Homo sapiens: one gene and its partner. The protein of the gene in region 2 interacts with the protein of the main gene of each other region in a pairwise test. Each region holds a gene or a part of one and is shown on either strand. Other genes may lie near its edges. The genes, in order: TRPV2 and INPP5F.

Region 1 (5,194 bases), on a different chromosome or scaffold from region 2:
CGGCCTCCTGAGCTCAAGTGATCCTCCTTCCTCAGCCTCCTGAGTAGCTGGGGTTACAGGCACCTGCCACCACACTTGGCTAATATTTTTATTTTTTGTAGAGAAGAAGGTCTCACTATGTTGCCCCGGCCTCAGGTGATCCTCCCACCTTTGCCTCCCAAAGTGCTGAGATTACTCCCACCTCCTTTAAGCTCATAGATGTACTTAGGACAGTGCCCAGCACCAAGCAGGTGCTCAATGTGCTACCAGCTACTCTTATCATCATTGCTGTCCAGTGTTTCTTTTTTTTTTTTTTTTGAGTCAAGAGTTTTGCTCTTGTTGCCCGGGCTGGAGTGCAATGGTGCAATCTTGGCTCACTGCCACCTTTGTCTCCTGGGTTCAAGCGATTCTCCTGCCTCAGCCTCCCAAGTACCTAGGATTACAGGCATGTGCCACCACACCCCACTAATTTTTTGTATTTAGTAGAGATAAGGTTTCACCATGTTGGTCAAGCTGGTCTTGAACTCCTGACCTCAGGTGATACACCTGCCTCGGCCTCCCAAAGTGCTGGCATTACAGGCATGAGCCACCATGCCCCACCCTGCTGCCAATTCATTGTTGATCTTGGGGAAGCCCCTTATCTCCTCTGAGCCTTGGTGCCCTCCTCTGCAAGGTTCTGTGCCCCACCTGACTCACTGGTGTGCCTCTGGGCAGGCACATGTGTGGGGTGAGCAAATGAAGTTCTGTTCCTGGTGGTGTGGCAATCTGGAGCCTGGAACGATGTAAGAGCAAGTAGCTGTCCAGTACTCATAAGGTACAGACTTCCCATCAGCTGTCTGAGGCACTTTGTCCTCAGTCTACAAATGGGGAAACTGAGATGCAGAGAGGCTGAGGGCCCAACCCCACACAGGTAACCGGATGTTGGAGCCAGATTCGAATCCGCGTGTTTAGTTGACTTCGCGTTATACTGTGAAGTGCTGCGCGGCACTTCCCTGCTCCGCTTGCCTTGTGTGCCTTTGCCCCCAGGCAGGGTCCCAGGACGTTCTGTCTGATGCATCCTTTGTCCCCAGAAAGCCATCTCTGTCCTGGAGATGGAGAATGGCTATTGGTGGTGCAGGAAGAAGCAGCGGGCAGGTGTGATGCTGACCGTTGGCACTAAGCCAGATGGCAGCCCCGATGAGCGCTGGTGCTTCAGGTGAGTGAGTGGTGGGAGGGTCTCCTGGGGGCCTTGCTGTCCAGCAATCCCTGGGGCCCCCCTGCAGTGCAGGGCACAGCTGCCAGGAGCCAGGTCTGGTGGGAAGGGCAGGCCCAAAGAGCACCAGGGACTGAGCCTGAGCAGGTGAGGTCAGGGGTCTGGATCTCACAAGCCATGGCTGCCACATGACTGGCCATCTGCCTGTCCCAGTGGCTTAAACTGAAGGTCCCCTCCTGGTGATCTCAGACTCCTCCTTGTAGCCTGAAATGTGTTACGGTAAGGAGGCCAAGAAGTCAGAGGGACCCTTGGGTTGCTAGCACTCTAGCATTGCCCTGGCTGCTCTGTGTCCCCCCACCCCCAATTCTGCCAGCCTGATCTCTGAGCTACAACCCCTTCCATGGAGAACATGCCCTTCTGTGTCCAGGAAAGGCTGGGACACTGGGAGAGGGAACCTAGTGACAAACACACAGCTAAAAACAGACACTGTCGGCCGGGTGCAGTGGCTCATGCCTGTAATCCCAGCACTTTGGGAGGCCGAGGCGGGCAAATCACGAGGTCAGGAGATCGAGACCATCCTGGCTAACACAGTGAAACCCCATCTCTACTAAAAATACAAAAAAGTAGCCGGGCGTGGTGGCGGGCGCCTGTAGTCCCAGCTACTCAGGAGGCCGACGCAGGAGAATGGCATGAACCTGGGAGGCGGAGCTTGCAGTGAGCTGAGATCGCACCACTGCACTCCAGCCTGGGCGACAGAGCGAGACTCCATCTCAAAAAAAAAAAAAAAAAGAAAACAACAGCAACAAAAAAAACAGACACTGTCGTGAGGCAGCAGATGAGCAGAGAGACGGAGTCTTGGGCATGAGGAGCAGCCATGATAGGCCCCAGAACCCGGAAGCACAGATACACCTGATCTGAATTCCTCTTCTCTGGTTGTTCTGGGCAACCCAGGCTGCTGTGAACAGCCAGAAGCGATGGATGCTGATTCCTGCAAGTGAGCACCTGCCTCACAGGACAGGGCTCCAAGTGGGTGGCCCAGAACCCTGCAGAGAAAAAGCCTGTCCTCCTCAGGGCCTCTGTGTCCACCAGAGCATCTCTGCATAGTCTCCCAATTTGGGGGGCCACGCCCCTCTCCGGGGTGGGAGGGGAGGCGGTCAAAGCAGGCAAACCTCAGAGCTGCTCTGTTGCCCTCAGGGTGGAGGAGGTGAACTGGGCTTCATGGGAGCAGACGCTGCCTACGCTGTGTGAGGACCCGTCAGGGGCAGGTGTCCCTCGTGAGTAGCCTGGTGACTAGAGCCTCTGCCCTGGGGTGTGTGTCTCTGCTGCTTGGCCACAAAGCCTTGGAGAGTCTGGGGCAGGACCCAGAGACCTCCTCATAGTCCCTTTGCAGATCCCCACATGCCAGCTCCTCTTAGAGGGATTGCCTCCTTAAAACAGTGGTTCCCTCCTTTCCTTTCCACCCACACCTTGCTTTCAGGCAGGAACCAGGGGAAACCTCTGAGGCTGTTAGCGCTTCCACCAGCCCAGCCTCTGGCTGCCCTCTCTCTGATGCCAGTCAGTCACACCCTTTGCCCATTCAATTGGTTATCGAGGGTCTGTCCCCAGCCAGGCCTGGGCTGAGCCTGGGGACTCAGCAGGGGAATAAGTTAGGAAGGGCTGTGTCACAGCGCAGCCTACAACAGAGGCAGCATCTCCCTGGACCCTCAGAGGAACTGCCCTGCATAGGCCCTTAGTCCCTTCACACCCCAAGTCCCCCACCTCTGAGAAACCACTTCCCATGCTTCCTCCATGTCCGTGGCCTGTGTCCTCTCCGTTCCAGTGTAGTGATGGCCCCTCCTGTCCCCACCCTGCTGCCTCCACCAAGACTGGTTCCTTCCTCCCACCCTCAGAGGCCTGTTCTGAGGATTAGCTGTCCCCACTGCATACCCTTTCTTTCTAGAACCTTCAATAGCTCCCACCTTCCACTGGTTCACCTCCTCTCCTTTCTCCATCTCTTTCCTGACAAATTTCACTTGCTTGTGCCTGTTGCCCCCCACAATAGCCTCCTGAGTCTCCCATGGCCCCTGTTGTAGGGAGGCTCCTCTGGCCTCTTCTGCCCCACAGCCTGCTGGTTTCCCAGGCTCCTGGGCCGTGACCACTGCCTCACATACAGATAGGTTTCCCTTCACCTTCTCTTTGCATCTCCCTCTCTTCACTACAATGCCAGGAAAGTCACCTCTGAAAGTCACCTTGTCCCTCCCTCATCTTGCCCCAAGCACTCCACACCCCACTGCCTGCTGGGGCCTCCAATGTGACATTCCCAACAGGAACAGCCTCGGGGCTGCCCCAGCAGGTCACATGTATGTCACCCCACCCCCTCCTCACCCAGGTGGAAGGCCTTGAGAGTCTCAGCCTATTCCCCCCGCTATACCAGCTCTCCCACCTGGAGCTGAGTGTCCTTGACCCCTCAGGCGGCCACTCATCCCTCTGCCCTGCCCTGCCTCTTACTTCTGCACCACTGCAGGGGGGCCCAGCCTGCACTCTTACCCATTGCAGTCCTGCTAATGTGGACAAAAACCACATGCAGCCCACGCTACACAATGCCTCCCACTACCTGGAAGGCCGCACTGCTCAGAATGGAGGTCAGGGCCCAAAGCTGTCTAACTCACTCCCCACACCTCCATCCACATGTCTGCAGTACTCCTTGTTCTTTGCTTTCCTTGGTTCATCTCTGGATTCGTCTCTGTCGGAAGTGCTCTTCCTCCCCTCTGGATGTCCAAATCTGCCACCGCCCCTGCAGGACAGGTCCCCTCTCTCCTCTGAGCTCCCCCAGCATGTCTCAGGTGTTCTGATCTCTGACACACAAGTCTGTCACCTCCAGGCACTTTAAGCTCCTGGGGGTGGCAGGGGCAGGGGGAAGCCCCTGATATGGCAGGGGATTGGGAAATGCTTGTGGAGTGAGGGAAGCAGGGAGAAGGATTGCTGGCCTCCAGGATCGCTGAGGCTGTCCCCACGGCATGACGTGTTTTCATGACTGTGGCCCCGTTTCCCTGGTGCCTGCTTCCTGGGGACACACTCAAGGGTTAAGCTACAGTGCTTGCCATCTGTTTACAGGAACTCTCGAGAACCCTGTCCTGGCTTCCCCTCCCAAGGAGGATGAGGATGGTGCCTCTGAGGAAAACTATGTGCCCGTCCAGCTCCTCCAGTCCAACTGATGGCCCAGATGCAGCAGGAGGCCAGAGGACAGAGCAGAGGATCTTTCCAACCACATCTGCTGGCTCTGGGGTCCCAGTGAATTCTGGTGGCAAATATATATTTTCACTAACTAACTCTTCTGGAAACATTATTTGGGCAGAGTTGCTGGGACCCTTAGAGCTGGCAATGTCTGCATGTCTCTGTGTGCACAGGTCTGTGTATGGGACTAGGTTGCTCCTGCCCTTGCCTGGGCACAGAGACCCTCAGTTGCTGTGTCCCCACCCTCACCCCCACATCCCCAAGTCTGGGGACTGTCCTCTTCCTGGGTACAGGCAGCTGGCTGAGGTGCTGTGCCCATTGTTGTGGCAGATATATGGTGATGGACATGGGCAAACAGCCACCTCTCCTCTCTCTCCACCACGACACCCTTTGCTTTCCACACCCACCCTGCTTTTGGGCAGGTACCTGGGAAAACCCATTAAAGCCACCTCTCTTGCTTTCTCTTCCTACCGAGCTTCTTGCTCAATTCCCACCCCTCCCAAGCCATTCTCTGCAGGGCAGCCAGAGGGCCTTCCTAAGACATAAGACAAACATGTCCTCTTTGTGCTCTGAAGGCCTGAGAGGCTCCCCAGTACCCACAGAATGCCCTAGCTGACATCCCGAGACCCCCACGGTTTTGCCCAAGCAGTTCCAGACACCTCCTCCCCTCCACCTCTGTTGCCCCTCCCTCCTTAGCACTCTCCCCAAATTCATGCAGGCCGAGAGACCTCGTGCTTGATCCCTTGACCTGGCTCTTGCTGGAAGCCCCCCTCCTCCATTAAAACCCTACACTTGGGGGTGGGGGGAGGG
Region 2 (7,332 bases):
GAGAGAACTTAGACTTAACTTTAATTCAGCTCAACTCAAACAAAAACGCCTTCTCTGTCCTAAGTACTCTAAAGCCTAGAGACACCAAGATGAGGAGTAAATACAGCCCTTGCCTTGGGGAACACACTGGGACTTCCCACCGGGGAAGAAGTAGGCAAACTTTTATTATGATGATGCATAAGGGTTAGAATTGAAGTGTCCACTAAGTGTAGAAAATGCCTGGAAACACAATAAAGGTGGCCAATAATTCTGCCCCAAGGATGAGGGGTAGCATCTGAGCTGGGTCTTATGGAATGGACTAGGTAGGAAAAGGGGTTGACAGTAACAAACATTCCAGGCTAAATAAATGAGTATTTTAATCTTAAATATCATCATTACTTATCCTTCTGATGTCTCTAGAAAAAGGAAAACTCTTGTTTCAGGTTGTTCAATAGTCACGAATGTAAAAACCACGATGCCCACAAGCTTTTTTGAGCTTATAATACTGCCCTTTCAAAAAAGAAAAGGACTTAGTAATCTATTCAGCTAAATAACCAGTAGGAAACAATGAAAGATTTTAAATGCTGTCACTACAAACAGCAGCAAAACTTGCCATAAAAGCACAGGGGAAAAGTCCAATAAAATAAAGAGAATTTTAAATGATTCCATATACAGAAAAAGATCTGAAAAGCACTTATTCAATTAAAATGCCATTCTTAAATAGCCATTAGTTAGAAAGGATCTTCAGTCCTGGACAGGATAAACTATAGGAAAATCAAGTGCATGGGATTCTTTATTCCCTGGCTATCCTGAACACCTTAAGATCAAAACTGGCTGTTACTTCTGAAACATGGCCTCTTCCTTCCTCCAGACATTTGGTCTACTTGGTCTGTGGCCCGCTATATTCTAAAAAGTATGCCAATCTCAAGTGCAAAGGCTATAGCTACTTTCCTCCCCCAAAAAAGTTTTAAATTTGCCTTCTGACATGGACTTTGAACAAACAGTAATCCAAACTGCATGGCTTCATCCAAGAATCTAGGCGCAGGTTAGCCTTTATAGTTCAAGAAACTGGGGTGTAGAAAAGTTTGTTGTCAGATGAGTTGGAGACGATCTTAAGTCCCATCCAGTTCTAATAGTCTAAGCTTTTAGAATCCAAGGAGTTGACTCTTTTGACAACCTAGGAATTTTGAAATCTGCTTTACTTCAAGCTGTACTGAAGCCTTACCCAAATTTGGGGGAGTGAAAGGAGGGAAGGGGAGAAAGCCAGACAAATGGTCAAATCAGAGAAGAGAATGACAGAAGACTGGCCAAAATTAGCCTATCCATAATAACTCTATCCCGAGATCATCAAGAACTTTATCTGGGCCAAGGAGTTTATCCTCCATTCTGAAAAGAGGAAATACAACGTAATAGCAAGAAAATATAGACAGAGCCTGAGGAAAAAAATAAGTTATCCTTCACTGCTCTGGCAAAGCAACTAGTAGGCCTTCCTAAGAAAGCAGTGGGGCCTGCCCAAAAGTGTTCTGGAGGTCACAGAACTGCCCTGTGTCAGTGTCTCAACTCTAGGCTGTGACCCCGAACGAGTTACTAATAACCTCTCACTCCTTTCTCCTCACCTGAAAAAGAGGATCCCACACGTGTCCTGTAAGGTTGCTGTGGGGATTGGAAATAATATGTTAAAGGGCCTGTCCTTAAAAACCATCCTATAAGTGATACCACGCTGTGATCTGAAAAGCTCATCTGAACCTTTTATCCTTTTCAATTCATATCATGTAATCCTTCTGTCTAGACTGCACATAAGAATTACAAGTAAGTCTGAAAAGCTCTGGCTCCTTCCTTAAAGAACTCTATCCTCTCGCTTTCCCTAAAGTGGAAGAATCTCTGAGTGATATGAGGAAAGGATTAGCAAGCCAAAAGGGGCAGGTGCCACCCAGCCCCATCTTACAAGAAACTGGACTGTCAGCGCTCTGAGGGCAGGGACTGCTCTGTTTAAACCACGACTGCACACACATTTTCCTAAAGCAAGCTAATTGCAGACTTAAGCCTCTCCGAACAGCTTACATGACACCCAAACATGGACCCACAATACATTTTGTGTCGCACAACATCAAGTCACACAAAAATCTCAAAATTATACATTACAATACAATTTAATTGTGCTGTGGTATTAAAGTCAAAGACAAAGGCTTTAAACCGAGTGCCTATGAGGTAACCACAGTAAAGTCACACCTTTAATAATAAGGGACCAAGAACACACGGGATGGCAACAGGGAGTGAGTGTCCAGCAGAGCCCTAGACGGAACTGGCGCAACCGCTCCAGATCGGAATTCGAACCCAGAACTTCTGGCGAAGGCCATGTAAGAACTACTCCAAGGAGGAAGAGGCCTTTACGGCCAGGTGCACCTTGCTGGAACTTTCTGCCGGAGGGGACCCCCTCCCCTCGGCCTGGGCCCCAAGCCCCAAGGGCGGCCGCGTGACGCGGTGGGAAGGACGAGGGTCGCCAGCCCCTTCTGCTCCGCACTGGGGTAGGGGCTCGGCGCTGTCTCGGAGAAAGGCCAGGCTCCTTCCAGTCAGGGAATAATGACAGCTCGCGCGCTCGCAGCCCGCCCCGCCCCGCCTCACCAGGCCCGCAGGCGGCTCCTCCCGCCCGGCTGAGGGGTCCGGCCGCGCCCCCTCCTCTCCCCGCCCTGGCCCGGGGTGCCCCCCGCCCGCACCGCCAGCCTCACCGGGTCGGAGCTGGAGGCCGCCGTCGCGGCGGCTGCACCACAGCGCGCGCTCGCCCTGCTGCAGGATGTAGTGGTCCTTGGCTTGGAAGAGCTCCATGCTGGCCCCGCGCGCCCAGGGAGGCGGCGGCCCGCGGGCGGCGCACGGGGCGTCCTAGTCGGTCGAGGCCGCCAGAGCCCGCGCCTCGGGGAGCGGCCGGGTAGGAACCGCGCCGAGAAGCAGCGGCAGAGGGAACGCCCCGGGGCACCCGACCGGTAGGAGGAGAACGCGCCCCGGCAGCGGCGGCGGCAGCGGCGGCCGTAGAGGCCTCTCCCCCCCGCTCCTCCCCTTCCCTGGCTCCGCCCCAGGCCCGGCTCCACCCCCTCTGCTGGCTACTCTCCCCGAGCGCCCGGCTCCGCCCCTCAGCCTCCTCCTCCTTTCAGCTCCCTCCCGCTTCCTGCCCTTTCCTCCGCCTTCTCCCGGGTGTCTCCTCCCAGCTCCTCCCCGCGGGTCTTTCCTCCTCCCTCTCGTCCTTCCGCCCGCCCCTCCCGCTCTTGCCCAGGCCCCTCCCCCGGCGCGCCAGCCTTCCTGTCGTGGTCACCGGTGGCAGCTCGGGAGCTCGGCCGAGTCGGTCTGGACTGACCGCCTCCCTCCGCGCGGCCTTGGGGACAGGCGCCCACCGCTGGGGCCTCCCCTCCGTGCAGGGAGGCGCTCACGCTTCGCCAGGCCGAGACCTGAATCCAACCCCACACCCGCTCTCCCGGAGCGGTGCGGGGTACGTTCCCCGCGGGCCTGCGCTGCCTGCCCGTACCGAAACCAGGCGAGACCCCGGGGCCTGGCTACAGGGGTTCATCCCCAGCCAGGCCCACAGCCAAGCGGAGGCGTCTTCTGTTTTCGTATTCCCTATTAGAAGTTTGACAACAGGAGGCATTCAATAAATGCACATCAACGAGGGAAAGCATGTAACAATAGAAAACACACAAGCATTAGCAGCACGCGGCTAAAGAGCGAGGAGGAAGGGAGGAATGTACAGGTGCTGCTGTGTCCCGAATTAAGCAGGGCGGTTTGGAGAAGACTTCACAAATGGAGCCAGTTAATGAAGCAAGCGGAAGGAATATCGTTTGGCGAGGATAAGATGAATGGAGACCCTCTCGGGGAAGGAGGAGTCTCCCCCAAACATCCTTGAGCTCAGTCTGTCTTGAAAAACCAGTTGATATCCTGAACAGAATGGGTCTGGAGAATGAGGCCCCCACTTCCGGGGCCAGTTCGAGGACTATCTAGCTGTGTGATCTTGGGGAAGTCTCTTGGTCTCAGATGGTGGTTGAACTAATGACCTTTTATGACACCCCCAGTTCTATAAATCATTGAGTCTTCCTACTCCTAACTCCTTGCCTTCTCTAATGCCTGAATCGGAAACAAGAGAAAAAGACAAGAAGTAGGAGATGAGAAAAATAAGGCAATACTTTTTTTTTTTTTTTTTTTAGTTTAGGAGCGGAAGTTTATAGGCAAAAGAAAAGGGAGAACAGCTGTCTCTCTTGCGAGAGAGAGGAGTGACCGAATGGGACTTCTCAGAAAGCAATACTTTTAACCTTCTGCTCAAGTAAAAGTGAGAGGGTACAAAAGCAGGAAGGAGTTCCACATGACTAGTTATTCCAGCCCACAGTGTTGAATTTCCATAGCACAGAAAGTCCAATGATAACAAAGCGTCCTGGAATCTTTTCTAAGTACCATGCCTCTGTGCTGTCCAGACACCTCAACATAAAGGTCGAGGGAGGTGGTTACTCTATCAAATCTTTGTGATGTGATTTGGAGAAAGAAGGTAATGAAGCTATAAGAAGCTTCAGTGGAACCATCGGTTTCAGATTGATTGTTTAATTCAGCCATGTGTTGACTTAGCAAAAATGAGAATGAGAAAATCCTATGAAGACATTGTATCCTGCAAATTATTTCATTATTGTTTTATGAATTACATTGCCAGATGTGAAGAAAACAATGCTGTTGTAACTGTTTTAAAACAATTAATTAGTTCATTGAAACTTTTCCTGATGTTTTAGATCCATGGTTCCAACCCTGGCTGCCTATTAGAATCACCTGGGGAATTTTTCAAACATATCAATGCTTGGACCTTAGACCAATTAAATCAGAATTTAATTGGGGTGGGGCTCTGGCATCAGTTTGTTTATTTTTTCTAAGCTCCCCAGATGACTTTACTATGCAGTCAGGCTTGAACACCACTATTTTAAGTGAAATTAATTAGTAAAATCTGCCTGACAGCAGCTTGGAAAAAAACAGCAGTCAGTCATTAACTAATGCCATCATATGGGCTTGGTTACCTGTAAATGCAGAGTTAACAAGCAAAGTCTTTAGGAGAGAGGAAAACATGGAGGGGAGATGCTTCTGTAATTATCTGACCCCAATGCACACTGCTGTCTCCCTCAGGCTCCAAACACATGCTGTGGGGTAGGCACAGCTCTAGCCTGGCTGAGCAGAGTGAAAAGAGCACATATTTTCTGTCCCTGGTAGATGTCACATCCCCAATCTACTGCCACAGTTGCCTTGCCTTGTTTCTGCTATGAACTTCCTGAACCTTGGCCACTGCAGCCTCTCCACTCCCTGGCTAGCCTATCCTCGGCCTGTGGCTAACTTGCCAGCCTCATCACCCTCTTCCAGCTTCCTAATTCAAGGTCCTCCTGCCCCGATGCCACCCAGGTTTTAATGGAAAGTTCACGTGATGCTGCTCTCCTTTTTAAACACAGATGACCATCATACATATTATATATCTTCTTTTACGTGTATGGCATATATATGCTAATTTAAGTATAATCACTAAGGAGTTTGGTTCTAGCCAGTTCTGTGTGATTTTGGTCAGTTCACTCAATCTCTTTTGATCTCAGGGTCCTTATTTATGAAAAGAGATGATCACTAAGTGTTCCCTTCCAGTGCTGAAATCAATGTGAGGAAATGTGTCCACGTAGTTAAACCTACACAAATGATGGTAAATAAGCCAACTGTGATTATCGATTTAGCCCTTCAATATCTCTGAGATCTTTGGATTAGATTTTGGTATCCTCTGGTGAGATTTGACTTTAACATCATCTCCTGTCTTCTGTCTACTTGTCCATAGTCTTGTTTGTTGTCTGTGATAACTTTCTTCAGTCTTGTCTATGAGAAATCTCCCAAAAGAAGAGATTTATATTTATATAAATATATTCCCCCCTCCCCCAGCCTGCCTGGAGGCTGCTAATGTTGCAGGTCAGCAGTCCAGGTGGCTTAACTTTGTTTTTTGTTTTTTGTTTTTTAATTTTTTTTTTATTGATAATTCTTGGGTGTTTCTCACAGAGGGGGATTTGGCAGGGTCATGGGACAATAGTGGAGGGAAGGTCAGCAGATAAACAAGTGAACAAAGGTCTCTGGTTTTCCTAGGCAGAGGACCCTGCGGCCTTCCGCAGTGTTTGTGTCCCTGATTACTTGAGATTAGGGAGTGGTGATGACTCTTAACGAGCATGCTGCCTTCAAGCATCTGTTTAACAAAGCACATCTTGCACCGCCCTTAATCCATTTAACCCTGAGTGGACACAGCACATGTTTCAGAGAGCACAGGGTTGGGGGTAAGGTCACAGATCAACAGGATCCCAAGGCAGAAGAATTTTTCTTAGTGCAGAACAAAATGAAAAGTCTCCCATGTCTACTTCTTTCTACACAGACACGGCAACCATCCGATTTCTCAATCTTTTCCCCACCTTTCCCGCCTTCTATTCCACAAAGCCGCCATTGTCATCCTGGCCCGTTCTCAATGAGCTGTTGGGCACACCTCCCAGACGGGGTGGTGGCCGGGCAGAGGGGCTCCTCACTTCCCAGTAGGGGCGGCCGGGCAGAGGCGCTCCTCACCTCCCAGACGGGGCGGCTGGCCGGGCAGGGGGCTGACCCCCCCACCTCCCTCCCGGACGGGGCGGCTGGCCGGGCAGGGGCCTGATCCCCCCACCTCCCTCCCCGACGGGGCGGCTGGCCGGGCGGGGGGCTGACCCCCCCACCTCCCTCCCGGACGGGGCGGCTGGCCGGGCGGGGGGCTGACCCCCCACCTCCCTCCCGGAAGGGGCGGCTGGCCGGGCGGGGGGCTGACCCCCCCCACCTCCCTCCCGGACGGGGTGGCTGCCGGGCGGAGACGCTCCTCACTTCCCAGATGGGGTGGCTGCCGGGCGGAGAGGCTCCTCACTTCTCAGACGGGGCAGCTGCCCGGTGGAGGGGCTCCTCACTTCTCAGATGGGGTGGTTGCCAGGCAGAGGGTCTCCTCACTTCTCAGACGGGGCGGCCGGGCAGAGACGCTCCTCACCTCCCAGACAGGGTCGCGGCTGGGCAGAGGCGCTCCTCACATCCCAGATGGGGCGGCGGGGCAGAGGCGCTCCCCACATCTCAGACGATGGGCGGCCGGGCAGAGACGCTCCTCACTTCCCAGATGTGATGGCGGCTGGGAAGAGGCGCTCCTCACTTCCTAGATGGGATGGCGGCCGGGCGGAGACGCCCCTCACTTTCCAGACTGGGCAGCCAGGCAGAGGGGCTCCTCACATCCCAGACGATGGGCGGCCAGGCAGAGACACTCCTCGCTTCCCAGACGGGGTGGCGGCCGGGCAGAGGCTGCAATCTCAGCACTTT

Evidence for each region.
Region 1: the proteins of INPP5F (region 2) and TRPV2 interact in a protein complementation assay, tested with the Homo sapiens proteins (one study listed by IntAct).

The regions. Positions count from the first base shown.
Region 1 is NC_000017.11:16,432,525-16,437,718, forward strand, and holds the end of TRPV2 (transient receptor potential cation channel subfamily V member 2), read left to right. Parts: intron 1-1,049; coding exon 1,050-1,174; intron 1,175-2,365; coding exon 2,366-2,445; coding exon of another isoform or gene 2,446-2,453; exon of another isoform or gene 2,454-2,457; intron 2,458-4,264; coding exon 4,265-4,365; 3' UTR 4,366-4,479; downstream 4,480-5,194. UniProt on the Homo sapiens protein: Calcium-permeable, non-selective cation channel with an outward rectification. Seems to be regulated, at least in part, by IGF1, PDGF and neuropeptide head activator. May transduce physical stimuli in mast cells.
Region 2 is NC_000010.11:119,721,733-119,729,064, reverse strand, and holds the start of INPP5F (phosphatidylinositide phosphatase SAC2), read right to left. Parts: upstream 3,016-7,332; 5' UTR 2,803-3,015; coding exon 2,706-2,802; intron 2,570-2,705; exon of another isoform or gene 2,209-2,569; intron 1-2,208. UniProt on the Homo sapiens protein: Inositol 4-phosphatase which mainly acts on phosphatidylinositol 4-phosphate.